Homo sapiens: one gene and its partners. The protein of the gene in region 3 interacts with the protein of the main gene of each other region in a pairwise test. Each region holds a gene or a part of one and is shown on either strand. Other genes may lie near its edges.

What was found.
Region 1: the proteins of SS18L2 (region 3) and LYPD6 interact in binary tests that used the Homo sapiens proteins (3 or more experiments, as listed by UniProt).
Region 2: the proteins of SS18L2 (region 3) and GNG3 interact in binary tests that used the Homo sapiens proteins (3 or more experiments, as listed by UniProt).

Annotation. Positions count from the first base shown.
Region 1 is NC_000002.12:149,324,224-149,335,404, forward strand, and holds the start of LYPD6 (ly6/PLAUR domain-containing protein 6 precursor), read left to right. Parts: upstream 1-6,363; 5' UTR 6,364-6,499; intron 6,500-6,997; exon of another isoform or gene 6,998-11,181.
Region 2 is NC_000011.10:62,703,213-62,713,884, forward strand, and holds GNG3 (guanine nucleotide-binding protein G(I)/G(S)/G(O) subunit gamma-3), read left to right. Parts: upstream 1-4,463; 5' UTR 4,464-4,703; intron 4,704-5,082; 5' UTR 5,083-5,083; coding exon 5,084-5,182; intron 5,183-5,465; coding exon 5,466-5,594; 3' UTR 5,595-5,989; downstream 5,990-10,672. Other genes in the region: BSCL2 (seipin), read right to left, coding at 2,089-2,405, 3,897-3,983. UniProt on the Homo sapiens protein: Guanine nucleotide-binding proteins (G proteins) are involved as a modulator or transducer in various transmembrane signaling systems.
Region 3 is NC_000003.12:42,590,863-42,598,620, reverse strand, and holds the end of SS18L2 (SS18-like protein 2), read right to left. Parts: 5' UTR 7,724-7,758; coding exon 7,655-7,723; intron 7,097-7,654; coding exon 7,020-7,096; intron 4,200-7,019; coding exon 4,112-4,199; 3' UTR 1,687-4,111; downstream 1-1,686.

The DNA of each region.
Region 1 (11,181 bases), on a different chromosome or scaffold from region 3:
AGGATCGCCCCTATTCAGCATGAAGAAGTTACAGAAGATGGACCTTCATCCTTCTGCAACCCCTAGGATTAAGGGTCCTCTTGTAAAAGGGAAAGGGGAGATACGTGGGAAGCATTCAAACCAGAGCAACTCCATTTTGAATAAGGGCTAAGAAAAATAAAGCTGGATCACCAACCGGCAAATAAGGGCTGTACAGCCTGCAATTGCGTTGCTCAATTAATTTAAAAAAGAGGCCACCTTATGCTAATAATAATGATAGCTGTGGTGGTTTTTACAAAAAAGAGATGGGGGCCATGTTGGGAGAAAAGCTGAGTGTTGGGAGAGAAGCTGAGGCAGGGCTTGCATGTCTGCTAGACGTGTTGGCTCCTTGCTTCTAGCACTCCCATTATCTCAAGCAGCCATGTTTTTCATTCACTTGATACACTGTTTCCTTTCAACCCCCACATCCTCACCACCTGTTTGAGCATCAATAAATAGCGTGGGCTCCCAGAGCTCGAGGGCCTTTGCAGCCTCCACACTTGCGATGGCCCCCTGGTCTTACTTTCTCTCTCATACTTTTTCTCATTCCTTTGACTCTGCTGGACTTCATTGCCCTCAAGACCTGGTGTTAGGTCTTATCACCCCAACAATGACTCCCTGCTCTATGAGCTGCAGAATTGATGTTGTGTTATCAGGCAAGGAAACACATGAATCTCCTTGTACATTTTCATCAGAGCTCTGAGATGACTAGATGAATTGTCAATAAGTAGTAGTATTTTTGAAATAAATCTTTTTTTTTTCTAAGCAGTAGGTCTCAACAGTGGGCTTACAATATTCAGCAAACTATTCTGTAAACAGATGTGCTGTCATATAGACTTTGTTGTTCTATTTAAACAGCATATACAGAGTAGATTTAGTATAATTCTGAAGGGCCCTAGGATTTTTGGAATGGTAAGTGGGGTAGCTTCACTAGCTGCGTCAGCCCCTAACAAGAGAGTCGGCCTGTTTTGTGAAGCTTTAAAGTCAGGCATTGACTTCTCTCTAGCTATGAAATTACTAGATGGCATCTTCTTCCCATGGAAGGCTGCTTTGTCTATATTGAAAATCCATTGTTTAGTGTAGCCACTTTCATCAATGATCTTAGCTAGATATTCTGGATAACTTGCCGCAGCTTCTCCATCAGCACTTGCTGTTTCACCTTATGCTTTCATGTTAGGGGCATGGCTTCTTTCCTTCAACTTCATAAACCAACCTCTATTAGCTTCCAATTTTTTTTTCTCCTGCAGCTTCTTCACCTCTCTCGGCCTTCATAGAAGTGAAGAGAGTTAGGGTCTTGCTCTGGATTAGGCTTCTGCTCGGGGGAATGTTTTAGCTATCTTTAATCTGAACCACTGAAACTTTCTCCATATCAGCAACAAGACTGTTTTGCTTTCTTATTCTTATATTCACTGGAGTAGCATTTTTAATTTCCTTCAAGGACTTTTCCTTTACATTTACACTCTGGCTAACTGGTACAAGAGGCCTAGCTTTGGCCTATTTCAGCTTTTGACACCTTCACCTTCTTCACTAAGCTTAATCATTTTTAGCTTTTGATTTAAAGTGGGAAACATACAACTTTCACTTAGAGGGACTTGTAGGGTTATTAATGGTCTATTTTCAATACTGTTGCACCTCAGGGAATGGGGAGGCTGGAGGAAAGAGAGATGGAGAATGGCTTGTTGGTGTAACAGTCAGAACACACACATTTATCAATTAAGTTTGCTGTCTTATCTGGACACGGTCCATGGCCCCCCAAAACAATTACAATAGTAACAACAAAGATCACTGATCACAGGTCACCATAATGAATATAATAATAATGAAAAAGCTTGAAATATTGTGAGAATTACTAAAATGTGACACAGAGACACAAAGTGAGCACATGTTTTTGGGAAAATGGCACTGATAGATTTGTTCAATGCAGAGTTACTTCAAACCTTCAATTTGTAAAAAAAAAAAATGCAGTATCTTTGAAATGCAATGAAGTGAAGTGAAATAAAACAATGTATGTCTGTATGTAGGAGTAGGATTATTGGGCTATATGGTTAGGTGTATATTGAACTTTATAAAAGTGGCCAAACTATTTTTAGTGCGGACATACCATTTTGCACCCTCACCAGTGTGGTATGAGAGTTTCAGTTGCTCTGCAGCCTCATCAACACTTGGTATTGTCAGGTTTTTTTTTTTTGCCATTCTAATAAGTGTCTAGAAGTTATCATTGCAGTTTTAATTAGCATTTCACTAAAGACTAATGATATGAGTATCATTTCATGTGCTATTTGTCACCCATATATCTTCTTTGGTAAAGTGTTTGTTCAAATCTTTTGGCCATTGAAAAAAATTTGGTTGTTTTCTTATTGCTGAGTTTTGAGAGTTCTTTGTATGTATTAACTACAATTCCTGTGTCAGGTGTATGATTTGCAACTATTGTCTCCCTGTCTATTCTTGTCTTTTCATTCTCGTAACCGTGTTGTTTGCAGAGAAAATGTTTTAACTTTTAGAAAGCCCAATTGATTTACTTTTTGTTATGTATTGTGCTTTTTGGCTTTGCATTTTCAACCTTCAATTTTTATATATTAAAAGTAAAATTTCTAAAAAAAGATTTCCTCCTAGCAATAGCAGATTATCTACATGTATGTAAATAATAATTACCTATATCTCCTAAATGTGAAATTAAATAAGACATTAGACAATTTGTGCAGAAAAAACAAATTAAAGTTAAGAAAGATGAGACAAGGATCTAATAATTTTTAAAACACGGAACTAATGTCTTTTCGATTTTGGATAATAGTTGCATGTAGACACATGAAATAAAATGCCTCATGGGGTTTCAAATACCCATTCATTTATTTACCCATTCATTTTAGAATATTTACTGAGCACCCACTATAAACCAGGCACTGTGTTCTACGTGGGGGCATATGGATTCATATGATGGGACAAAGAACTTGCAATAAATAGATCAATGGATAACACAATGTGGTAAGAACTGTGATTGACATATATTCAAAATGAACCAGGTTTCTTTTTTTTACATGTGGTAGTGTCATCATGCCTATCTCAGTATGAAATTGTTCATGTGACTATTTGATCTAAAGTCTTTCTCTCCTACTCAGGTGATGGGTGCACTACAATCTGACTTCACCACTATACAATTCACCCATGCCAAAAACCACTCGTACTTCCAGAGCTATTGAAATAAAAATATACATTAATTTAAAAAATCAGAAAGGGCTGCTTTTAAAATAATCAATAAACAAGGCTGGGCATGGTGGCTCATGCCTGTAATCCTAGCACTTTGGGAGGCCAGGATGGGCAGATTACCTGAGGTCAGGAGTTCAAGACCAGCCTGGCCAAAATGGTGAAACCCCATCTCTACTAAAAATAAAAAAATTAGCTGGGCATCAACAACTCAGGAGGCTGAGACATGAGAATCACTGGAACCTGGAAGGCAGAGGTTGCAGTGAGCCAAGATTGTGCCACTGCACTCCAGCCTGGGTGACAGAGTGAGACTGTCTCAAAAACAAAAACATGAAACAATAACAACAAAAAATAATCAATAAACAGATCTGTAGTGAGAGCTGGGCAGGTTGGGAAGGTGCAGGGTGAGACCACCTATGGTAAATGTGAGCTGGCAGACTCAGCAGGGGTGAAACAGAGGATGGCACTCAGCCATGTTGGGCAGGGGTGAGAAGGAGAGGGCTTAAAATAAATAAATAAATAAAGTGCGTCTCTCTCTTCGTGCACTCCAGGAGTGTAAATACAATGTATGTTTTCTTCATCGCGTCACTTTGCTCCAGCCTGGGCAGCAGAGTGAGACTCCGTCAAAAAAAAAAAAAAAAAAAAAAAAAAAAGCTTGCTTCTGATGTACAGAAAGAAGGCGTTGCTTAATTCTGCCCCGGGCAGTTTCGAAGACTTGATTTTTAAAAAGGTGGTATTCGAAGTGAATCTTGAAGCAAAGATAGGAACTTGCTGTTGGGGCAGGAGAGAGTTGAGAAGGAAGAGAAGCACAGCATTCTAGCACTATGAAATCTTAGACATGGGTGTGTGAAGGTCCACGGACAGGCAGTTGTAGGTGGAGCAGAACCATCCTGCCTGCGGAACTGTGAGGACAGAAGATGAGACCAACGTGGAAAGCTGGGAACGGACTGGGAAGGAAACGCCTTGCCAACCAGGCTCCATTTGAACTTCCTCACAGTGGGGTTGGAACTGAAGAATTTTAAGCTTGAAAGTGACATGATTACATTAGTGATTCTGAAATAGAGAGGGCAGCGTGTGGTCGACTGGAGAGCAGAGCAGTGAAAGCCTGTTGCTGAAGCGCTGGTAAGGCATGATGAGGTCTGGCAGTGAAATAGAGATGCTGGGAGGGATGGATCTAGAAGTCATCCTAGGAGACAGAAACACAGGACTGGGCGATTGACAAGATGTGAAGGGAAAAGCAGAAGGAAGATTTAACATTTTCGCTCTTCTGATGCCTGAGGAGTGTTGTATGTTGGTAGTCAACATTTTAAAAAAATTTTTAAATTAATATTAATGTTCTTTAGAAAATACCGTAAAGTATAAAGAACAAGAAAACCATCCATTATCCCAACACGCAGAGATAACCACTGCAGACATTTCATATGCATATCTTTCCAGCCTTCTTTGAAAATATATTTCTGAAAAGAGATCCTAAGGGTTCCATCTCTACCAGGAACTCGGCTCTCATAAACTGCATTAATACGTTGAACTTCACTTTGAACCCAAATATGAATATTTTCACTAAACTATGCACCGATTTTTTTTAAATAAAGTGAATAAGTACATGGACCGGAACTGCCAACTGGAAACTAAATGAGTGTCAGCAGTGACACCCGGGACATGCCCTCATTAGTAGATGCTAACCCGCAGAGGTAACCTGCCTAGACACGGAGAGACATTTCCAAGTTCAGGTTGATTAATTCATATTCAATTCATTCACCCTGCTGAGCCCTGCAGGAAGACAGCGCGGCAGCGATCTCCACCTTGAGGGGGCGCTAATTATTTTTTGCCTACTTGAACCCTGAGCTTGGGCAAGCCTGTGCACATACACTAAGAGAAAAACTTTCTGAGGTCTAGCAGCTGTCGATCAAAAATAGGTTATCCTAGGCCCTTCCAAATAGAGGGACTGGGGAAGGAAGTTTAATTTAAAAAAGAGTAAGAATGTTTTTATGTTGGGATGGATAGATTATTGGGAAGGCAGGGTGATTCAGGAGAGGCCTGAAAAAATGCTCCAGGGGTAGAAAATCCAAGGAGAAGGTGGAGGGGTCTCAAAGATCGACAAATAGCCACATGGCGGGCCGCCCTTACGAAGGTAGCCTTGCAGGCCAAGTTCGGGGGGAGGTGGGGAGGCTGGTTCCGAGTTTCCGGGCATATCCGTGGAGTCCTTCCAGACCTTCCTGGGGACCTTCCCCGGTCACCCCGGCTCCCCGCCGGCCCCCCGCGCTGCTCAGGGGAGAGTAGGACTATGACCCACTTCCACTCTAAGGCTCTAGATCGAACCGTCCAGGGGGGTCAAACACGATTTACAACAAGGAAGAGAAAAACCAATACGTCCCAAGAGGGCTGCAGGGGCTTTAACTGGAGGAAGGGTTGGGCAGAGGGTGGCAGTATTATGCCCTGGACTTTTTTGCACCAAACCCATAACCGGATTCCCACTTCCTAAGACCTGCCTTCCTGGCTCTTCCCACCGCCTCCATGCTCCGCCCCGCAGCTTAGGTCTTTTACTGCAAACGTCAAGTGGTCTCCGCCTTCCCTGGGTTCGGAGCTTCACTTGCTCTTGAGCTCTGCGGTCCGGCGGATTTCGCGGGGCCCAGGGGATGGCGGGGAGTGAGATTTGGCCAGGGTCATTTCACACTGCCGGGCCTGCAGCCACGCACGCAGCTGCTGGCCCGGCTGAGGCTGGCGGCTAGGGAGAGGCGCCAGGGGGTCGCGCACAGGAAGGTATCGGTGCACCCTGAGCAAACACTGCTCGCTTCCAACGCTCACTGGGAACAGGCTTCCCGGGAAGGTCCCAAATCTCTCCAGTTCCGCTCACCCTGCGGGCGGGAGCGCGGCGCCCGGGTGCCCCACCTGCGCCGGGCGGTCGGCTCCCGCTGGCCGGAGTTTGCAGACTTGGCGCTCAGGCCGATTCTCCCGGAGTTGGGCCGCGCGCGCCGGGCCAATGAGCGCGCCCCGCGGAGGGCTCCGCTCCCCCCGCGCGCGCTGATTGGTCCCGCGGCCCTCGAGGCCGGGCCGGCCGCGGCTGCGGGCGGCGGCCAGTGCCCGGCGCGAGTGGGAGTGGCGCGCGCGCCCCTAGCCGCCCCCCGCCTCTCCCCGCTGCGCTCCCTCGCTCCTTCCCTGAGCTCCCGGGCTCCGGCAGCGGGCTGGCGGGGCGCCGCATTGCACACTCTGGGGGCGCCGCAGTGTTCGTGGGATGGGGCAGCGGGCTGCAGCTGGCGGCCGGAATCCGCGCGCAGCCCGGGTGAGTAGAGGCGGGCTTCCCGGGAGAGCACAAAAGAACAGGGGATTGGTGCCAGCGGCCCCGGCTTAGGCGGGGCCTGGCCAAGGCAGGGAGTGCGCTGAGTCCCTGGAACTACCCGATGCTAGGGCAGTCCCCTGGGGCCAGAGGAACTGGGGTCCCGGCCTCCGGCGTTTTGCCCCTAGTGGGCAGAGAGCCCCGCGAGTAGCCTGGACGGGTCCAGAGGGGCGTGTGTACTCGTGTGTGTTGGGCTGGCGCGTGGAGGGTGGGATGGAAAGGTCAGGAGCTGCCAAGTTCAAGGCTGGAGGAACCTTTCCCAGGAGTAATTCAGCATCTTCTCACGGCCCAACATGCGTCCACCAGGAACTCCAGCCGGAGGGAGTTCCTGGGCGGCGGACTGGCAGCACCCCACATGTTGCTGCGGGGCGGGGGGCAGTGGCGGTAGCCCGGCTGCGGCCACCCGGAGCCTCTAAGGGAGGTGCAGTGTGCTGGAGGTACCTCCCCGCCGCTGCAAGACCACGCTAGGCCTTTCAGCCATCCACCCCGACAACCCAGGGAAGGGACCATCCACCCACAGAGTTGGGATTTGGCCTGGGCTTGACTTGGCGACCTGTTTTTCTCTCCGGTAACAGCAGTTCCGTTGATTCACATTTGGCTAAGCGTTCAGTTACAACCTAAAGCTCACTATCTGACGGTCTGACTCGCTCTGACCCCCACCATATCCTCACTATCTCTACCGCTGCCCTCCTCCAGTCCCCTCTCCCGCCCCAGTATCTGCCCTGCTCCTCACTGCGGGGCTCAAAACTTGGTGTTTGAGCATGATTGCCTTCGGTGTGGTCCTTGGCATTTTCAAGTGTCACAATCACATCCCGTTTCCTAGAGGACTCCAAAGACTTGTTATAATGGGATCGGGGGAGAGAATTGGGTGGGGGGGAATGGAAGAGGGTCTTTGGTAGTCACTTGTTGGAAGAACAGCATTGACCTCCCAGAGCATATGACAAAAAGAATGTTAAGCTTCTTTCTATGGTAACCTACCCAAGGTGTGACCTCCAAAATTCAATTTTCTTTGTGGGAGGCAAGGGAGTTTAGATTCTCCAGGGGGAAGCTTATTTCTTGTTAAATTGACTTGCGGTGACATACACACTGTTCTGCTCTGCTCTGGCCAGCCATTGCAGATGCCATGATATTATTAGAGCAATTCCCTTAAAGCCATTACATTTTCTTTCGAGTGAGAGGAACTCGAGCTAGCTGTTTAAAATTTTGGATCTGCACCTTATTTCTCTAGAAGACATTAATGGTTACTGTATATGCGCTCACGTGTACCAAGTTTGCAAAAGGTATTTGTGCAATCGCCCATGAAATGGGTTAATGCACATTTATGTTAAACCCATTTAAATGTAAAACATCTATCTGTTTTCAATTTTAGTTTCCACCTCGACCAAAGGCACCAGACTGAAATAAGACTTAAAAGAGGCTTCCTTGTTTAAATAGAGGTTTATAGAACTCTAGTCCTGAGAGCACACAGTAAGCTTTCTGAGCTTGTAGGCACACAAAGCTTGTTAAAAATTGTGAAATGGTTCCTTGAGTTAGAAATAATGGAAATGCTTCCAGACCAATTAAGACAGACAATTGATGAAGCTACACTCTCAAGCTGTTGACAGTCTTTGTAAGGTGAATGTTTATAGTACATAATGCATAAATCGGGCTGATTCTAGGCAAATAATATCAAGTAAAAAACCATACCATGTGTTGTATCATACTGGATAGTTTATATGGCATATTGAAATCTACTATTAAAGTGTCTGAGGAAATCATATCTTTATCATCCCCATTTCACAGATGAAACAACTGAGGCTTTCAAAGATTGACTTTTCCAAGATCAATAGCAGAGTTCAGTCAAGTGTTTTTCAAATTCTTTCCTACCTCACCCGTTCCCTTCCTTCCTTCCTTTTTGGTGTTTACCTACTTCTTTGTTGTTTACCTACTTCTGATTTCTGCACCTCTTTTTACTGTTTAACCCATAGCTTGAGGGACCATTGTGAATCATCCCCAAAAGGCTTTGCTGTCTGCTCAATATCATTTAGCTCCCACTAAGGTGAGGGCTGATAAAGAATTAAGGTGAAAACTAGGAATAGTTTTAAAGAGCTACCCTTTTCAAAGAGATACGTTATTTTTGCTAATGAGTTGTTAAAGGTACATATAATCAAACCCCTAAAGGATGATGTCCTAATTGTAATGTTTCAGAAAGACAAGTAACAGTAGGAGAGATGTGTGAGAAATATGTAAGTCTCCTATTTTATAAACACACTCCTTATAAGCTCTGTAGACGATTAACAATAGAAATAATAAATGAATATCTCATTAGTGCTATTCTTATTTTAAAAAGAATTGACAAAATAGATGACTTAAATAAAATCAGAACTACTCTGGAAACACAAAAAGCACCCACTTATCAAAAGTCCTGAAATCCTCATTGACTAGTGTACAAATGTAGCAGAAGACATTGGTTAGAGAGAAATCATATTTTTACTTGCAAAGCTAGCAATAAGAAGCGTACAGATATCTGCCTATCTGATTATTTTTTAAGGGCTCATCATCTGCAAATCTTTTCTTGGAAAATGATTGCTTACAATATTTACTTGTGTCATTGCATACTATTTATTAATGAGATTAATCTCATTTGCAATAACGTGGTTAAGTGTTGAGCTTACTACTAGTAAGTCTTGGTTAAGTATGTGGGCTTTGGATTCAAGTCTTGTCTTCACATACACTAACTGTGGGACTTCAAAAAATGATAGAACTTCTCTGTGCTTTAGTTTTCTTATGTGTAAAGCATGAATAATGCACCTACCTCATGCAGTTTTTAAAATTTATTCATGCAGCAAATATTCAGCAATTGCCTATTAGGTACCAGCTCTGCTCTAGATGCTAGGGATACATGTGCAAACTCCTTGCTAATGAAGTTTACCGTCTGGTGCCTGAAATCTAATGACACAATGCATTTAAAATGCTTGGGATGGGACCTTACACCTACCAAATGCCCCGTTATTGTTAGCTGTTGGTATCATACATTCTTTCAGGAACTGTTCAGAGTGCCTACCAGATGTAACACAGATTGCAGCATGTAATGATGAATGATATGTGTTTCAATTCAATTAAGTCTTCTAATGGAAGAGGGGACTCCAAAGAAGGACATCAAGAGTATAATCAGTCTCTAAAAGGGAATTCAATGCTGATATGTTAGGGAAGAAATGAAAAGAAATACTTAATTTACCCATAAGAAAGTGGGAAGCATACGAATTACCTTATAGAAACCCAAAAGTGATAAGAAAAACAAGTCTTGTACCCAAGCTCTGTAAAACACTAAACTCATAGTGAAAACACATAGGGAAAGTAAAGAAAAGAAAAAGAAAGCTTACCTGGATACATGTAATGAAAAAGGAAAATTTGAAGGGTCAGTTTATTAAATTGACCTTATGAAGGGCAACAGATCCCAGGCATACTAGAAATGGGATAACCAAAAGTGAATTTGTTAAAAAAAAATCCTTGCAATGGATTTCCAAAACGATAATGAAAGTCCCTTAAATACTGTGAAATAAGGATTGTGGAACTACTCATCTTTCATCATACCAAACATGTACTGGGAGATAAAAAGAGATAAAACAGCGTGTAAATGAATTCTTTGCTTCTGTTTTTGCTGAGTAATATTCCTACACCCAGGCTTTCTCAAGCAATACACACATTGGAGGTAATAGATCAAGAAGTGGCAAGTGCTGAGGATATTCCAGACCTAATCAGCAGACTAATTACAGATAAATCACCAAGACTAGATGGCCTTCACCTAAGTATATTGAAGAAGCCTGGTGTGTACGTGACAGCAATCTGGGGTATTGCTGGGGGATTGACTGGTGTCCTTGGGGGCTCCAGTCAGGGGAGGGGTTTCCAGAAGGACTGGGGGCCAAGAAACCAGACCCGTGTCCCTGTGGATGATTGGGAGATGGATATTCAAAGTAAACACAGATTACAGCAAGTAACGATTTTTTTTTTTTTTTTCTGAAGAAGGGGGATTGACGTATTAGAGTTAAAAAAGGAAAATACAGTCATGCACCTCATAACAATGTTTGGGTCAAGAATGCACTGCTTATATGATGGTGGTCCCATACGAGTATAGTGGAGCTGAAAAATTCCTATCACCTAGTGACATCTTAGCTGTGGTGATGTCGTGGCACAACACATTACTTACCTGTGGTAATGCTTGTGTAAACACACTTACTGTGTTACCAGTCTTAGAAGAGTATAGCACGTACAATTATGTACAGTACATACTACTTGAGAATGATATTAAACACCTATGTTACTGATTTATGTATTTACTGTTAATGCAATTTATCATTATCTTAGAGAGAACTCCTACTTATTTTTTTTTTTAAAGTGAACTGTAAACAGCCTCAGGCAGGTCCTTCAGGAGGTATTCCAGAAGAAAGCATTGTTATCATAGGAGATGTCAGCTCCATGCGTGTTATTGCCCCTGAAGACCTTCCAGTGGGACAAGATGTGGTGGTGGAAGACAGTGATATTGATGATCGTAATCCCGTATAGGCCCAGCCTAATGTGTGTGCTTATGTCTTAGTTTTTAACAAAAAATTTTAAAACATGTTTTCATTTAATAGAAAAAAAGCTTACAG
Region 2 (10,672 bases), on a different chromosome or scaffold from region 3:
TCTGGGTCCTAGTTTGAGAAAACGCCTCCAAAAGGATCTACAGATGGTTATTAAGAAGCTCATGAACCCCTCCAATTGTAGGCAAATTTGCATGTGGGGGTGTGGGTGCAGCATATGCCTGGGCATGCATATACGTTTTTTTTTTTTTTTTTTTTTTGAGACGGAGTCTTGCTCTGTCGCCCAGGCTGGAGTGCAGTGGCACGATCTCGGCTCACTGCAAGCTCCGCTTCCCAGGTTCACGCCATTTCTCCTGCCTCAGCCTCTCAAGTAGCTGGGACAACAGGCGCCTGCCACCACGCCCGGCTAATTTTTTTATTTTTAGTAGAGACAGGGTTTCACGGTGTTAGCCAGGATAGTCTCAATCTCCTGACCTTGTGATCCGCCTGCCTCGGCCTCCCAAAGTGCTGGGATTACAGGTGTGAGCCACCGCGCCCGGCCGTATATATGTTTTTATGGCAGGAAGGGCCATAAGATCCATTTCCTAAAAGTTTAAGAAGCTCTGCTTTAGAAACTATAGCTCTGGACCAGGGACTTAAGGGAAAAAATGACTTTAAACCATTGATTATAACGCCCTTCTCTGCATCTGTTGATAGGTCCTACAACCACTGTTAAGAAAAGAGAACTAGGCCGGGCGCAGTGGCTCATGCTTGTAATCCCAGCACTTTGGGAGGCCAAGGGGGTGGATCACGAGGTCAGGAGTTCGAGATCAGCCTGGCCAACATAGTGAAACCCCATCTCTACTAAAAATACAAAAAAAAATTAGCCAGGTGTGGTGGCAGGCACCTGTAATCCCAGTTACTTGGGAGGCTGAGGCAAGGCAGGAGAATGGCTTGAATCTGGAGGCAGAGGTTGCAGTGAGCTGAGATTGCGCCACTGCACTCCAGCCCAGGCAACAGCACGAGACTCTGTCTCAAAAAGAAAAAAAAAAAAAAGAAGAAGAAGAAGAGACCTTGGTGGGGCACAGTGGCTCACGTCTGTAATCCCAGCACTTTGGGAGGCCAAGGCGGATGGATCACCTGCATTCAGGAGTTCAAGACCAGCCTAGCCAACATGGTGAAACCCCATCTCCCCAGCACTTTGGGAGGCCAAGGCAGGTGGATCACAAGGTCAGGAGATTGAGACCATCCTGGCTAACAAGGTGAAACCCCATCTCTACTAAAAAAAAAAAAAAAAAAAAAAAAAAATTAGCTGGGTATGGTGGCAGGTGCCTGTAGTACCAGCTACTCAGGAGGCTGAGGCAGGAGAATGGCGTGAGCCCAGGAGGCGGAGCTTGCAGTGAGCCGACATGGCACCACTGCACTCCAGCCTGGGCGACAGAGCAAGACTCCATCTCAAAAACAAAAACAATAACAAAACAAAAAAAAACCCATCTCTACTAAAAATACAAAAATTAGCCAGATGTGGTGGCACACACCTGTAATCCCAGCTACTTGGGAGGCTGAGGCACGAGAATTGCTTGAACCTGGGAGGTTGCAGTGAGCAGACACTGCACCACTGCACTCCAGCCTGGGCAACAGAGAGAGACTCCACCTCAAAAAAGAGAGAATTTGGCACTTGGCAGGGTTTGTAAAATGAGAAGGAACCTAAGGGGCCAGTCAAGACGCAAGACTCTCTGGGAAGCAAGTTTATGCGCCTACTCATCTTATGTTTCCATAATCTCTATTGTGTAGCCGACTTTCAGGGACTGAGAGGCAGTAATGTAAAAAGCAAACTGCTGCTTTCCTAATAGCTCCTCTACTGAAAGCCAGGTTGGTTCTGCACTAAAGGGTTGAGTTGGCTCAAAATTCTACATTGGCCCTGAGAGAGGGGTGATCCAACCAAAATAGAATTGATCCTCATAATGATAGAAGTGGATATTTTTCCTTTTTTTTTTTTTTTTTTTAACCAGAATTCAGTAATCAGAGGTAGAACTAGAACCCTAGCCCTGGCAACCCAAATCTAGCCTTGGGCTGTGAAAGTTGAGAGGCCCTGGAAGCACACCTGGCTCCAGTTTTCCTTATCTGTAAATGAGGGGATTGAACTGAATGAACTCCAAGGGCCTTACAATTCCCATAGGAGTCCTCTATTTTGATAGAAGGCCCCTCTCACCTGTAGTAGAAATGCACAGGGCTGAGGTGGCTGACTGTCGGCATATAGGAATAGTAGAAGGAGCCATAGAGGAAGACAGACACCCAGAGCAAAAGGAGGATGGTGCAGAAGAGCACCCCAAACTGCAGCAGCAGCCTGCGGGCACGGCCTGCCAAGACTTGGCCCACCTCCTGGGCCCACAGTAAGGCAGGTACTGGAGGGTCGTTGACCATGGCCGGGAGAGCAGGGTGTCTGGCCCCAGGTTCAGGCCTTGCGTTCCTAGCTGCTCTGCCACCTGGACGCCACCCCTGGCCATGGGATGCAGCAGCTGGTGGTTCCTGGAAAGAGAGGGTGAGGGAAAAGAGTGACTCCTTTCCCCAGGGAGGTGGGGACAAAACAGCTTACTGGACTGGCTTTGAGGAACGAGAGATAGCAGGATAGCAAAGTCATTGTTTCATATATATGGCCTTTCTCCAAATGATTGTGCCACTCTGCCAATTACCCCTTCCCTTTCCTCCACTGTGTTCCCTCCCGCCCAGTGCTAAATCTCCTCAGTGGAATTCCTTCTCCAGTCATTTGATGCTGGGACAAACCACCTTGATTCTCATTCACAGCTATATAACAAAGAATAAGCACCTTACGATTCTTAGAAAGAGCTTTACACACACGGTGATACTGAATCCACACTGCTAGGCAGCTGCACGGAGAGAATGTGCGACTTGCCTAAGGTCGCACGGCCTGACTCGAAACCAGTAGCCTTAGAGTAGCCACAATTGCTTCCCGAGTTTCTCCTCTCCGCCTCGAGCAGAGCTCGCTCACCGACACGGCTACACCCCACGCCCGGCGGAGCGCCCTGCAGCCAACCGCCGCTTCCCGCCAGTCCCCTCCAGCTCGGGGGTGGGCAAAGCGCCCGGAGCCCCTACCTAATCGTGCAACCATGGAAACCAGCCCGCCGGCTGCCACAGGGCTGCCGACTCACCAGCCTCGCGCGCTGCCAGGGCAACCGTGAGACGGGACTTCCGGCTCCCGGGGAAGTCCCGCCCCTCTCCGCCGGCCGCTTTTGTAGCCGTGGGAGGCGGGGCTTCAGCCCAGGGCGGGGTCCAGCACGGCGGGGCGGGGCGGGACGGGGCGGAGCCTTCCCGAGCTGCGAGGTCGCTGTCTCCTTGCGCTCGCCACTGGCTCTCTCTGCGGCAGGTTTCCCTCCGGTTACCGTGACCAAAGGGGAAAGACGCCTGCCTCCCTGCAGGCCCCAAGATGTGCCCCAGGGGATGCGCTGACTGCAGCCTCCGCTCGGCTCTCCCTTGAGACTGCAATCACAGCCCTCCGTGCACACCTTCACCACAGGCCATTTCACCCGCGAAGCGGCCGAGTGAGGCGGTCATCCAGCTGGCGCTGATTTTTATCGCCCACAGCTCCTAGGACCTGTAGGCATCTAAGGCGGGGGCATTCGCCTAGAGCATGTTGCAGTTTGCGGCAACCTGGGCCTCTTGCGTTGTTGCGCAGGCAGATTAGTGCCCTGTTCCCAGCGTGGTAGCATTGTGGACCTCCTCTGACCCTAACTGGATACACTCTCCCTCAGAGTCCCCACAGCACATTATCTAGACTAGCTTTTGGCAGTCTTCTATTTTGTAGACGTCTAATCACCCCAGATAAAGTCCTTCAGAGGCAAGGCCAGTGTTGTGTACATCTTTGCACACTGCTGCGGGCGTGGGAAGTAATCTATTCAAAATGAATGAAATTCTTAAAACCAATCCATCCCCCCGCCCCCTTCACGCCAGCCCACCTATTTCCAGTATATTTCTGCTGACTGTCCCCACAAGGGCCCCTACCTCCTCTTTGTCCGGTCCTTTGATCTGGTCTCCGCACACCTCTTTTTCCCCAGCTTCCTCCTTTTGGTCTACCTTTTCTGTAGACATCTTCCTGACGAGCCTCTGTTGACTCTGGATCTTCCACTGAGTCACTTGTGGCTAAAACGTGAAGTGGCGATCCAGACGCTGATACCTGTGGCGCATCACATTTTCCTGGATATGGAAAATGGAGGGTCCCTGGGAGAGAAACGAAGATTCAGGTGCTAAGTGCTGTGTCAGAGTAGAGGGAGGAAAGGAGGAGGGGGGCGACTGCCCAGCTGATGTCAGATTTTCAAATGAGCAGGGTCCCCCGCAGCCAGTACAGACTCCACTGCAGGGGCCGTCATAGGCCCAGACCACGCCATTTGAGAGGGGGAGTCGGCCTTGGCCTCAGCTCTGTTGGGGAGGTCTCTAGCCCAGAGTCAGGATGCCTGCAATGGGGGAGGGGCAGGCAGTGAACTAGCGACAGTGGGGGTGTGCGCAGGGATGCAGGCAGCTAGGCTCCCCCACTGGCCAGGCAGTTGGTATGCTCCAGGATCTGAGCAGCTCCTTCTAGCATCCTTCATCCTTCAGGTACCAGCCATCCAGACAGTGCTTGAGCTGCAGAAACTGAGACCAGACCTCTGGCCTGGCCCTCCCCAGGGGCCTCCTTTCGTATAGTCACTGCTTCTGCATCAGATACTTTCAGCTGCAACTCCCTACTGGGTGGGGCACCCATTTCAGGCAGAAGGTTTTGGTACCCTCCACTGACCCTACACCCAGGGCTGCTACTGCCGCTTGTGGCTTCAGGTAAGTAATGGCCTGTTTTTCTCCTGTTGGGGCTCACTGGAGCAGACAGGGGTGATGTGCCCTCCTCATCAGGGTTGGTTGAGGTCTTCAGAGCTGGGAACACACATGGTTTGAAGGGCTGAAAAGCCTTAAATCATTTGTGTAAGGTTTAATGATCTGTGGCCCAGGCCATGAGGGAGTTTGGGGAGCACCTCATCCCACCCTATTTTTTTCCATGAGGAATACAGGGATGAGACAGTCCACTGGAGGAGGAGGAGGAGGATAGGAGGGGAACAAAATATTGGGGTATGACCACAGCCTTGTAAAGGTTGGTGTGGAGTGAGCATGGAGGGGGGCCTCCAGCTGAGACTGTGCTCTGAGAGGTCCCTCTTTTTTCCAGGATGAAAGGTGAGACCCCGGTGAACAGCACTATGAGTATTGGGCAAGCACGCAAGATGGTGGAACAGCTTAAGATTGAAGCCAGCTTGTGTCGGATAAAGGTAGGTGGGACCCTGGCTGGCTCCCATTAGTTGGCCAGGCTGTGCTGTGCTGCAGGTTCCCAAAGCTCAAGATAAGAGATGCGTTCTTTCCTTCACTCCCTGAGGTCAGGGGAGGAGTCTGGGGCTCTGTAGAGAGAGCTGTCCCCAGGCCTCTGGGGGGGATGAGGGAGAAGACAAGTCGTAAGGAGCCCTGGAGATGGCAAAAGAGAACCCATTTGGGGAGGGAGGCTGCAGTCCCCTTCAGAGGTCCTGGCTAACAATACCCTTCCTGGCTGTGTCCCAGGTGTCCAAGGCAGCAGCAGACCTGATGACTTACTGTGATGCCCACGCCTGTGAGGATCCCCTCATCACCCCTGTGCCCACTTCGGAGAACCCCTTCCGGGAGAAGAAGTTCTTCTGTGCTCTCCTCTGAGCTCCCCTGTCCCTTCTCACAACTCCTCCCTTTTCCCTCTCCTGGGCCCTTCCTTAGGTCAGTAATTGTTGTGAGCCCCTTAGGCTCCTTGCATCCCATCCCTAACCCTTGCCTGACCATGTGAGGTTATCTGAAGCACAAGGCCCACCCTCACCTATCTGTCGACCCCATTTCCTACCACCTTTGTGGCCGACCCCAAGCACCCCAGAGATATGAGGCACCCTTTGCTCCACCCACAGCAGGGCCCCGTCAGACTCTGCCAGCGCGTCCTGCCCGCTTCCCTCGGTGACCTGCTCAGACAATGGAGAGGGATGGGCCAGGTTCTTGCTCTCAGTCTCACCTGGAGCTACTGGGAGGGTAAAGCCATTTGAAGAATAAAGTCATCCAGAGCCTCAGGACAGCTCCTGTGTTAGAATTCTTGGGGGGAGAGGATCATCAAGCAATAGATCTGCCATACCCAGGGAAAAGGGCCAATCAATGCAGGCTAGACATCGTCAAGGATCGGAGATCAGAGGGGTCGGGGGATGGCGGGCGCGAGAGAGCGTCCACAGTGTAAGAATTAAGTACAAAAGACGCTCAAGAGGCTGCGAAGAGCAAACACACACACACAAACGTGCAACGAAGCCAAGTTAAAAGGTAAACAGGCCGAAGAGGGGGGATTTAGGGGAGGGTGCGGGAGTGCAGTCGTACAGCAGAGGAACTCTTAGGAGGGTAGGGGCGGAGCTTGGCTTCAGTTACCGCGACTGGAGCCGATTTTATACCTAAGATGGCTGCGCCCACAGCCACTCCCATTCCAAGATGGCCGTACCAACATGGCAGCCCCCACGTCACGGAGTTTACCGTACAGGGCTTCTCTTAAAATGGCGGCCCCCAGGCAACCGGCGTTCTCAATATGGTCCCTTCCGCCCTCTTCTGGTCTCAAAATGGCTGCCCCTGCCCTAACCAAGCCGGGGCCCGCGCCCTGCAACCCCGAAATCTGGATTTCGGTGTCCTCCCGATTGAGTCGAAGGCACACGGGCGGCCATAACGAAGAATCACTAAACAAGGGGACCCCAGGAAGTACAGCGTGGCCGACGCTGGTCGCGTGGATCTTGCGAGGGAATCTAGGTTTCTACATTTTGCCAAGAAAGGAGAGGCTCCCTTTGGAGCGGAAATATTAGCGGCAGGGGGTTAACCCCCGACCCTGTCCGTCTCGGTGCACCGCTCCTCAGTTGCTTCCTGGTCTTCCCAGGAGCTGGATAAGCCTGAAGTTGCTCAGTTTGGGTTTCCTAGTAGAACTGGGGCTTGTTTTTGCTTTCATTTTCCCCTCAGGCCGATTCAGCCACAGCAGCCAGAAAGCAGTGGCCGCACCCCTAATGTGCCTTGCAAAAGTCCAGCATGCTGTCTGGGCAGGGACCAAACTTAAGGCTTAACATGTCATGGTCATCTCCAGGACTCAAACATGGCGGAGGTTTACGAACACCAGAATGCCTCCTAGAATCTTTTCCTTCCAAGGGTGCACAGAGGCGAGATGGGACCAGGGACAAGACAAAGAACGTAACAATCCCAGTACGTGTGCTCCTGCTAGAGGTCCCCTAAACTCAGGGACGCATCCTCCCCAGGAAAAGCCTAGGCTGGCTCCTGTTTTGTGCCTGGATATACTTCGGGAAGGGAGGCTGCTTTGAAATAGTAGGGACAGCTCATTACCTCCAGCTTCCAGGTATCTTTGCACAGAAGACAGCAAAGTGGATAAAGGAAACCAAAGGAAGAAAGGTTGTTATCACCAGCAACTGAACTTAGCCTCCTAAGGATATCTTCATGAATTCCAGGGACACCCAGTGAACTTGGGTCACCTTAAGGTGTCCCAAGCAACTTTTTACTGTTGATGGAACTTCTGAGCTCTAAGAAGTCCTGGAGATCTTCTAATTAATTCCCTCATCCTAGAGATGAAGAAACGGGAGAAGTTTGCCCTCCTGGAGTGGGACCCTACCCCCATTCTGTTGCGGAGGAGCCTCAGTTCCTTCTTGGCACGGTGAAAATTCCAGGAAGGATCAATCAGGTCAGGTCCGTTTTAATCCCTGTATCCTGATAATGGCACATATCAGGCACCCAAATACCCAATGAATAGATTGTACTGTACATGCTTAAATGGCAAATGTGGCATGGCAGGGACCAAGCACCTTGCCTCCCTCACCCCCACTGTATCACGGTGTTGGGCAAGTTCCAGGGGAGTAAGTGAAATTTTCCACAACAGCTCAGACATGGTTAAATAAAAAAAAAAAAAATTAGAGTGTTTAATAAATGTAACCTTGATTTTTAAGAAAGCCTCTTTTTGGCCGGCCGGGCGTGGTGGCTCATGCCTGTAATCCCAGCACTTTGGGAGGCCGAGGCGGGCGGATCATCTGAGGTCAGGAGTTCGAGACCAGCCTGGCCAACCCGGTGAAAACTGTCTCTACTAAAAATACAAAAATTAGCCGGTGTGGTGGCGGGTACCTGTAATCCCAGCTACTTGGGAGGCTGAGGTAGGAGAATCACTTGAACCCGGGAGGCAGAGGTTGCGGTGAGCCGAGATTGTGCCACTGCACTCCAGCCTGGGCAACAAGAGCGAAACTCCGTCTCAAAACAAAACGAAACAAAACAAAGCGCCTCTCTTCAATTTTTCTGCACACTCAATGTTCCTACCCATCAGATTATAACTGCGTGGCTACAGCGCTAGGTGGGAAAATGGGGTTTAAGCAGTAACTAGAGACCAGGCATGAGCTATGATTAACCACTTTAAAAAATGATTAATTAGCTCTAACAGCAACTTAAATGTCCTAAAGAATAGATGGCTACCAAAATTAAGGGTGGCCTTCAGGGTACAAAACTGTAAACCCGGGTATCTGAATCCGTGTCACATACAGAGGGTAGGAATTAGAGCAGTATCTACATCAATACTACTACTCCTTCAGAACACTGGATGTCATGAGCCTGTGGTATCTCAGCTTTAAGACCCTGACCATTTATTAGAAACTGCCGTTAGGATCATTTCAGTGCTAATAATGCAATGGTGGCTGGGAGCGGAGGCTCACACCTGTAATCCCAGCACTTTGGGAGGCTGAGGCAGGCAGATCACGAGGTCAGGAGTTCAAGACCAGCCTGGCCAATATGGTGAAACCCTGTCTCTACTAGGAAAAAAAAAAAAAAAAAATTAGCTGGGCCTGGTGGCACACATGTGTAGTCCCAGCTACTCGGGAGGCTGAAGCAGAAAAATCGCTCGAACCCAGGAGGCGGAAGTTGCAGTGAGCCGAGAGCGTGCCACTGCACTCCAGCCTGGGTAACAGAGCGAGGCTCTGTCAAAAAAAAAAAATAAAAATAAAAATAAAAAATAAAAAAGCAATGGCGCTGTTGTAAATTTAATTTACCGTCTCGTTCTCCAGATTCACTGGAAAATAACCCCCATCAAACTTCTGTTGAATGAGTGGGCTTTCCCCCTAGCAGTAATTATTCATGAATATACTTATTTGGCTCCACAATGTACATTTAACTTCAAGCATCCAACTAGTTTTTGCATAGGCCAAATACAGAGGTCGTGAGTTATAATTTATTTTCCTATACTTCAATGGCTCGACTCTTGGCCTAAGCAAGCACTAAATAGACTAATAACTACCCACCCATGTCAACTGACTGCATGGCTGGCTCCCAAGTGAAGGCATGGTAGAATAGGGAGGGAACGGCAGCCACCATGCAAGAGGAGAGTCCTCCTTGGTTGGAGCCCATGCGACCTGAGAAAGAGGCATTAAAAAATGAATAAATAACCCAGTGACACCCTCCGCCCCAGTCAGTGCAGCCACAGGAGATAGGGTGAATTCAATCCAAATGGTTATTTATTCTAAAACTGGAAGCTACTTTGCCTACATTTTCGCCAGAATGGTGTAATGAGAACAGGGGAGGAAAAAGTTACAGATGTAAACAATGACACAGTTACATTTTTTTTTTAAATGGTAAAACCCCTTTTTACTGGCCACTTCCAAGAATGCTTTACAGGTTGTGCAAAAACATTTACAGGCTCCATGTGGTGTTTTTCTCACAAGCTTTCCTGTCTACAACTACAACAGACGTCTGATAAAACACTAAACAAGTCTTCTAAGGAAAACAAGGCTAGGGATTCCTCTGGTTACCATAATCCACATTTTCCCCCTTAACATAGTTTTTCATAATAAAAAGACAGAAACAAAACCCGGACATCTACTGTTGTTGCAAATGATCTCTTGGACTAAACCAACAAGGATGTGGCAGTTTCACTTTCCACCCACCTAGAAAAACAGTTTTGTAAAAAAGATTACTTTCTAGTGTCAAATATCAACAGCGAGTACCTCCCCTAACCCCTGCTGGAAAAAAACTCAACTTGATTTAGTTTAGTCCCCTTGCCCCTAAGGGCCCTAGCATCCCCATCCATGTCACAGACTACAAGAAAGATGCTATTTGCAGGACTAAACATCTGAAAAGGGGTGGCAGCCACTGCCTCAGGAAATTCAATTTTCTATTATAACATAATCTTGCCCTAAGGGAATTTCTTTGGGCTCCAGTTTTTACCTCCTTGCCTTGACATTATAAGCAAAGCTTTCTCAAACTCCCTTAATAATAATACAAAGTTAATGTGTTACAGAAAAATTCATGCAATCACTCCACTGCCACACAGAAATCCATTTGAGGACACCGCAGGGAAGCAGGTGCCAAGAGAAAGGACATGACTATGAGTAAGCAAACTTATCTCCTACCAGCCCCATTCCAGCCTTGGGGTCAGAGGTATTTGGGCGGAAGGGTGTGTCATGACAGACAAGGACACTAGAGGCCAGAATAAGGGTCTGTACACCTGAACAAGGGCTGCAGGGCAGTAACAGTGGGAGGAGGAGAGGAAGACCAAATCAGCCCACAATTTTAAACAGAGAACTGCCCAGGTGAGGAAATGGAAGTGAAGCATTTTCTAGTGGCACAGATTTTCTCACTAGGAACTGCTGCAGTATGTGGTGTCTGCTGAGTAAGCTCTTGGCTGACAGTGCTGAGCAGGAGGATGAATGAAAACTGAAGCTAGACATTGAAAGAGCATTCCATATCCC
Region 3 (7,758 bases):
GCGGTGGCTCACACCTGTAATCCCTGCACTCTGGGAGGCTGAGGCGGGTGGATCACATGAGGTCAGGAGTTCGAGACCAGCCTGGCCAACATGATGAAACGCCGTCTCTACTAAAAATACAAAAAATTAGCAGGGCGTGGTGGCAGGCACCTGTAATCCCAGCTACTCAGGAGGCTGACGCAGGAGAATCACTTGAACCCGGGAGGCAGAGATTGCAGTGAGCCGAGATTGCGCCACTGCACTCCAGCCTGGGTGACAGTGCGAGACTCTGTCTCAAAAAAAAAAAAAAAAAAATTTGTTCTTTTGTAGCTGGGTGATTTCACTCAGCATGTCTTCCATTTCATCCATGTTGTAGCATGTCAGAATTTCCTTTTTTGAGGCTGAATAATATTCCATTGTATGTGTATATCATATTTTGTCTATCCATTCATATGTCAGTGGATATTTAGATTGCTTCTACCTTTTGGCTGTTGTAAATAGTACTGTTATGAATGTGGGTGTACAAATACCTCTTTGAAACCTGCTTTCAATTATTTTGGATATATGCCCAGAAATGGAATCACTGGATCATAAGCTAATTCCATTTAAGATTTTTCCAGGAATTACCATACTGTTTTCCATAGCTGCACTATTTTACATTTCCATCAGCAGTGCACAAAGTTTCCAATTTTTCCACATCATCACCAACACTTGTTATTTTTTGGTTTTCTTTATTGCCATCCTAATGGATGTGAAGTGGCACACTGTTTTAATTAATGTAGTTTTATAGTAAATTTGGAAATTGGGCTCACTTAGATTGGGTGTCCAATCTTTTGGTTTACCTGGGCCACATTGGAAGAATAATTGTCTTCAGCCATACATAAAATACACTAACACTAACAATAGCCAATGAGCTTAAAATTGCAACAAAATCTCATATTTCTTGAAAGTTTATGAGTTTGTGTTGGGCTGCACCCAAAGTTGTCCTGGGCCACATGTGGCCCCTGGGTGGCGGGTTGGACAAGCTTGACTTAGATCATTTCTGACCTGTTTCTGCACCTATGTCACCTTTTTTTTTTTTTTTTTGAGACAAAGTCTCGCTCCGTCGCCCAGGTTGGAGTGCAGTGGCACGATCTTGGCTCACTGCAACCTCTGCCTCCTGAGATCAAGCGATTCCCCTGCCTCAGCCTCCAGTGTAGCTGAGACTACAGGCACACGCCACCACACCTGGCTAATTTTTTTGTATTTTTAGTAGAGACAGGGTTTCACCATGTTGGTCAGGCTGGTCTCGATCTCCTGACCTTGTGATCTGCCCGCGTTGGCCTCCCAAAGTGCTGGGATTACAGGCATGAGTCACTGCACCCAGCCGTCCATGTCACCTTTTTAAAGTACAGTCAAACCTTTGGTACTTCCACACCATCACAGAAGTGCTGTCCTTTGTTAGAGCTTGCCCATTCTACCTCCCTGAGAGTCCAGTGTGTCTATTAGAGGAGCAGTCTGTAGGCTGAATTGAGAAGCTAGCGGTCTTGGGTCTGATTTTGCTGACAATTACAGACTTGAACAGTATGAAATGTACATGCCTTTCTGGAGATGAAATAGTTTGATAAAGCTAACTTTCATACATGGATTCATGAAAGGAAAGGATGGAGACCATTACCCAGCTTTGTAATTACCGTGTTTAGGACATCAGGCTTCAATGTAAATAGGTTTTAGAGCTCAGGAATGAAATATTTAATTTGGGATATACTTAAACAACTTTAAACCTAGAATTCATTCTTATCTTGACATTCCAGCAATTCTCTTCTTTCTGCCACTGGTTATGTGACCTGAGACAAATCACTTTGATCTCTCTGAAGTTTACTTTCTTCATCTGTAAAATAAATGAGATAAAATATCTCCTTTCTAAGGTTCTGCCTCTCTCAAAGATTATTTTATTCTGTCTTGTGATTTGAAATTATATTTTAGATGATTCGAAGATAAAAGTATGCAATTTGGTCTGTGATTAAGGTGAAGAAACTCCTGGGACAAGGCAGGCCTAGGGCTAGTATCAACCAAAATGACTGACACCTCCTCCATCTCTTCCAAGAGTGGTAGAAAGTTGGTATCCAAAGAGTTTACAAACTCAGGCTTAATTTGTCCATGATTTATCATGAAGAAGAACCACTGGTAGTACGAATTTTCAGGTAATGATTCTGGGGTTCAGCCTTTTAGAGTGTGATTATGCCAGCAATTAGAACTTCAGGGGATAGGACTCTGGAAAACCATCAGGAATGCTAGTGGGGAAACAGACAAAATAATTTTCTAGAAAACAGAAATGATCGGCTGGGCGCGGTGGCTTACGCCTGTAATCCCAGCACTCTAGGAGGCTGAGGCAGGTGGATCACCTGAGGTCGTGAGTACGAGACCAGCCTGACCAACATGGAGAAACCCCGTCTCTACTAAAAATACCAAAATTAGCCAGGCATGGTGCCACATGCCTGTAATCCCAGCTACTTGGGAGGCTGAGGCAGGAGAATCACTTGAACCCAGGAGGTAGAGGTTGCAGTGAGCCAAAATTGCACCACTGCACTCCGACAGAGCGAGATTCCGTCTCAAAAAAAAACAAAAACAAAAACAAAACAAAACAAAACCAAAAAAAAGAAGAAAAAGAAAAAAGAAAGAGCCAGAGCCCTCAGCACATTAGTGCTAACATAGATTAACATGTGCCCAGTTCTCAACCACGTTATCTCAGTCTCACAACCTCAGGAGGCAGATGCTATTTTCATTATCCTCACTTTAGAGGTGAGGAAACAGAGCTTTCAGAGGTTAAGGGATAGAGCTGGGATTCAAAATGAGTTATCTCTTCACTATTTACATGTATTTTACAGTTGCCCTAGGTTGCAACCCTTGACTCCAAAAAAAGGAGCAGGGACCTGGGCTTCTAATTTTGGATATACTTACAAGAATCCCTTTGCCTCATCTTTCAGATAAATCTCCAAGAGTGAAAGTTTTTTATAGAATACAGCTAATAAAGTCAGAAAGAATGATAAATTAGAAAATCCTCATTATGTAATCCCTAATGAATTACCACATCAAAGCTGGGTGGATCATAATTTAAGTGAAAGGCTGGTTGGGAACTTAAAAGTCAGGTCACTCCTTATGTGATGCAAAAGCAAGTACTTATCACCTTCTAATATATTCCTGCTAAAAATATTAGAACATGAGTCTGCATGAGCCTCTAGATCTACTAGTTTACAGGAAAAGTGGATGATAGTGGCACATAATTAACAACACTACAGAGATACAACTGTATGTAGAACACGAGAGAATTCTAGGGTAAACACCTAGTTATTTCAACAAATAAAGAAAAAAAGGAACTATTAAGTATTCTTTAAGTGACTTAAAGGAACATCAACAAAATACAACATGTGAATCTTATTTGGATTCTGGTTCAGACAAATCAACAAAAAGACTATCTGATAACTGAAGAAAATTAAACATCATCTATTATCAGATGATATTAGATAATAATTAGAAATCACTATTCATTTTGTTGGCAATGATAATAGTATTGTTTTTATATACTTTATGGTTAAGTCCTCACAGTTATTCTTGAAAACCAAATGGAATACTTATTACATGAAAACTTCTATACCTCCACATCAGTATTTTATAGAAAAATAAGCTTTATTTCAAAGCAATCTGAAAACAGCAGTCAGGGGGACCACATTTACAAACTGATAGGAAGGAGCACACAGTTACATGTCCATTTAGCAAGGTATCAAGTCAGGAATCTCACCAATTCCTGCCCAACACCTACTGAGTTTCCTCTTCAGGTTGAAACTAAAAAGTAGACTTGAACATCCCAGTGATGTCTTTGTTATCCAAACATGCTCCAAGTTCAGGAAAGAGGACACCTGGGCTCAACTTATTGAGGGATTTGCTTAATTATTTAAAAAATATTTACATGAGAATACAGCTAAGTTAGTAGCTTTCTTCACATTTTCACGTTTCGAAAGAGCCACAGAGGTTTCATTCATGTTTTAACCAGTTGAGTTGGTAAAGACCCTGTCTCCATTTTGTAAGAGATGGATTACATTCAATTACTCCTCACGACAGCCAAATGGAAGATTATTCTATTGCTTTTGAAAGATTATTCCATTGCTTTTGAAGTGCTGGTTGGACTGGCATCTGCAATGGTAGCCAAATAAATGAGATTTCTATGTAACACATGCTGGTACCTATGGGCAAAAAAACAGGCAAAAATCAGAGGCTTGTTTTTACCGACCATGAACAAAAAACTGGAAAATAATTTACCCACTCTAGTGGAATGGCTCATCCACTGACTGGATGATTCAGTGTTATCAACCTTCTTGTTTAACATATTTAAGGAAAATATAGTCAGATTCTCACCCATTCTTACTGATTACTTTCATAGCTACTATCATTTCTTGCTTGAACTATTGCAGTAGACACCTAGTCTCCCAGATCTATCTTTGCGCACCTACTTTATTCTCCACATAACAGCCTGAGAGATTACTGTACAATTTAAATCAAAATCATGTTATATGTCTATTCAAAACCTTCCAAAGGCTCCCATCTCATTCAGGTAAAGGTGAGCTGTTCTTGTGTCCTAATAAGGCCCTACATGATGGGGGCCTCCAGTCCCCCTCTGATCTCACCTCTTATGGCTATACCTTTGTTCACTGAATACTGGCCACAGTGGCCTCCTTCTGTGACTTGAAGATATCCGGCACACTCCTACTAGGGGGCTTTTCCACCTGATGCTTTCTCTGTCTTACTTATCTCACTATGCCTTACTACTGCATAGCTGGCTCCCTTACCCCAGGTCTCTACTCAAATATCACCTTATCAGACATACCATGTATAAAATAGCACTCCTCCCCCCACTTACTCTGCTTTATTCTTATTCAAAGCACTTATTATTATGTGCCTAATTATACATTTCCTTATAGATTCTAGAGTCTAGAATGTCAGCTCTGTGAGTGCAGAGCTGGTATCTGTTTTACTATGGATTTCCCAGAGTCTGAAACAGTGCCTGGTACCAGGAGTACAATTGTCCCTTGGTATCCACAGAGGATTGGTTCCAGGACACCTCCCTCCTCCCCTTAGATATCAAAATCTGAGGATGCTCGAGCTCAAGTCCCTTATAAAAAATGGCATAGTATTTGTATATAACCTACACACAGCCTTCCATATCATATACTTTAATTTATTTATTTATTGAGACGGAGTCTTGCTCTGTCACCCAGGCTAGAGTGCAGTGGCGTGATCTTGGCTCACTGCAACCTCCACCTCCTGGGTTCAAGCAATTCTCCTGCCTCGGCCTCCCAAGTAGCTGGGATTACAGGCACACACCACGCCTGGCTAATTTTTGTATTTTTAGTTTTTAGTAGAGATGGGGTTTTGCCATGTTGGCCAGGCTGGTATTGAACTCCTGACCTCAGATGATCTGCCCGCCTCAGCCTCCCACTGTAATGCCACAGTACTGGGATTACAGGGATGAGCCACCACACCTGGCTCACAGTTTAAATAATCTCTAGATTACTTATAATAACTAATACAACTTAAATGCCATATAAATAGTTGTTATACTGTATTTTTTTTATTGTTGTGTTGCTATTTTTCATTGTTTTGTGCTCCCCAATATTTTTGAAATGCAATGCAGAACCCATGGATACAGAGGACCAACTGTACTTATAAAATATCTGTTCAACAACTTCAAGAAGGGACAAAACATTTTCATGATCAACATAAGTTTACGGTGGGGGGGGTAGAGTTCTTCACCCAAAAAAATAAATCAGACAAGGGCTCAGAAAGCATGGCCTGTGCAATTGAAAAACCCCACTAGGAGATTTTGATAACTTTCTTACCCTTGGGTTGAGAATTACTGTACCAAATGGAATGTTTTGCAACCATTTTTCATATAGAAAAAGGAGAAGGTATTTACCATAAACTTTTAAAAATCAAATTACCAAATGCCAGAGTCAGATGTAAAGATTTACCCAAAAACTGATATCTCTACTATTCTATTAAGGTATTCAGTGAGGGACTGTAGGTAATTTTTCTAGGGGGTAGGGATTGTGAAACATTTCTTCAGTAACAATGAAATAATATATTTTTCTATAAGAAATGGGCATAAGGTCGGCCGTGGTGGCTCATGCCTGTAATTCCAACACTTTGGGAGGTCGAGGTGGGTGGATCATCTGAGGTCAGGAGTTTGAGACCAGTCTGGCCAACATGGTGAAACCCTGTCTCTACTACAAATATAAAAATTAGCAGGGCGTGGTGGCACACGCCTGTAGTCCCAGCTACTCAGAGGCTGAGGCACGAGAATTGCTTGAACCTCAGAGGTGGAGGTTGCAGTGAGCCGAGATTGCACCACTGCACTCCAGCCTGGGTGACAGAGGGAGACTGTCTCAAAAAGAAAAAAAAAAAGAAAAGAAAAAAATGGGCGTAATACCTGGACTAGATTCGGAAAAGAGACTCAGACTCTATTTTCTCTCATTTTGGTATCTACTTAGGGAGTGCATTAAATTATTATGCACAATTTACCTTTGACTTAACTTGTAAATCCTTTGTTTGTCTTTGTGTGTGTGTCACTAACAGACTGACGGGAAGTTAGAAATGAGAGGAAGCTTAGCAGTCAAATGGCCTGACCCCTTCACTTAACAGAGAAAGGATGAGGCAGGGATCCAAGATGAGAAAGGGGCCATGGCTCTAATCTCCTGAGCTTAGTTTTCTGTGTGCTCTCACCCCCATCCCTGTTGTCATCAGCCGGCATAGCTTTGAGTGAAGGAGGCTTTGCAGTGAGAATAATTCACATTTTGAAGAAAGAGCCACGTCTGACTCCAGGCTCCGCAGTGTACTCGTTGTATGGTCTTGGGCAGGTTGGCAAACTCTTTGAGCCTCTCTTTCCTCAGTTCAAAGAGGGGCTTAACTGCGATCAATCACCCAAGACTCTTAGTTCGAGAAAGCACCGCATCACACAGGCTTCCCCTCTACCCACAGGTCAGGGGCGCGGGGGTGGGGGTACTTACTGCACGCACTCGTTCCCGCGGCCCTTGTTCTGATACTCCACAATACAGCGGATCAGCTGGTCATTCTCCTCAAGGAGCTGAAAGATCAGAGAAAGAAAGGGTCAGTGCAGGCCGGGCGCAGTGGCTCACGCCTGTAACCCCGGCCCTTTGGGAGGCCGATCTAGGCGGATCACGAGGTCAGGAGTTCGAGACTAGCCTGGCCAACATGGGGAAACCCCATACTAAAAATACAAAAATTAGCCGGGAGTGGCGTCGCGCTCCTGTAATCCCAGCTACTCAGGAGGCTGAGGCAGGAGACTCGCTTGAAGCCAGGAAGCGGTGGTTTCAGTGAGCCAAGATGCACCACTGCACTCCAGCCTGGGCGACAGAGCGGGACTCCGTCTCAAAAAAAAAAAAAAAAGGAGAGAAAGGGTTAGTGCAGTGTGACGTCTGGACGGCGGGGGACCGAACCCCATGCCGGGGTCCTGCCCCGGCGCCTGTGCTGATTTCGTGCCCATCTCACCCCGCACCCCGGCTGCTCAGCACCCTTCACAGTCAGCTGGGAGGCCGCTCACTACAGGATGCTTCTCGCACCCCGCAGCCCCTCGGGATCCCGACTTCTCTCCGCCCGCCCGCCCGCCCGCGTGGATGCTCACCCGCTGGATAGTCTCTTGATTGACTTCCGCCTTGCCCCTCAGCCAGTCCGGTACGAAGGCCACCGACATCCCGAGGAACCTCCGGAACCACGACCGCCAAGCAA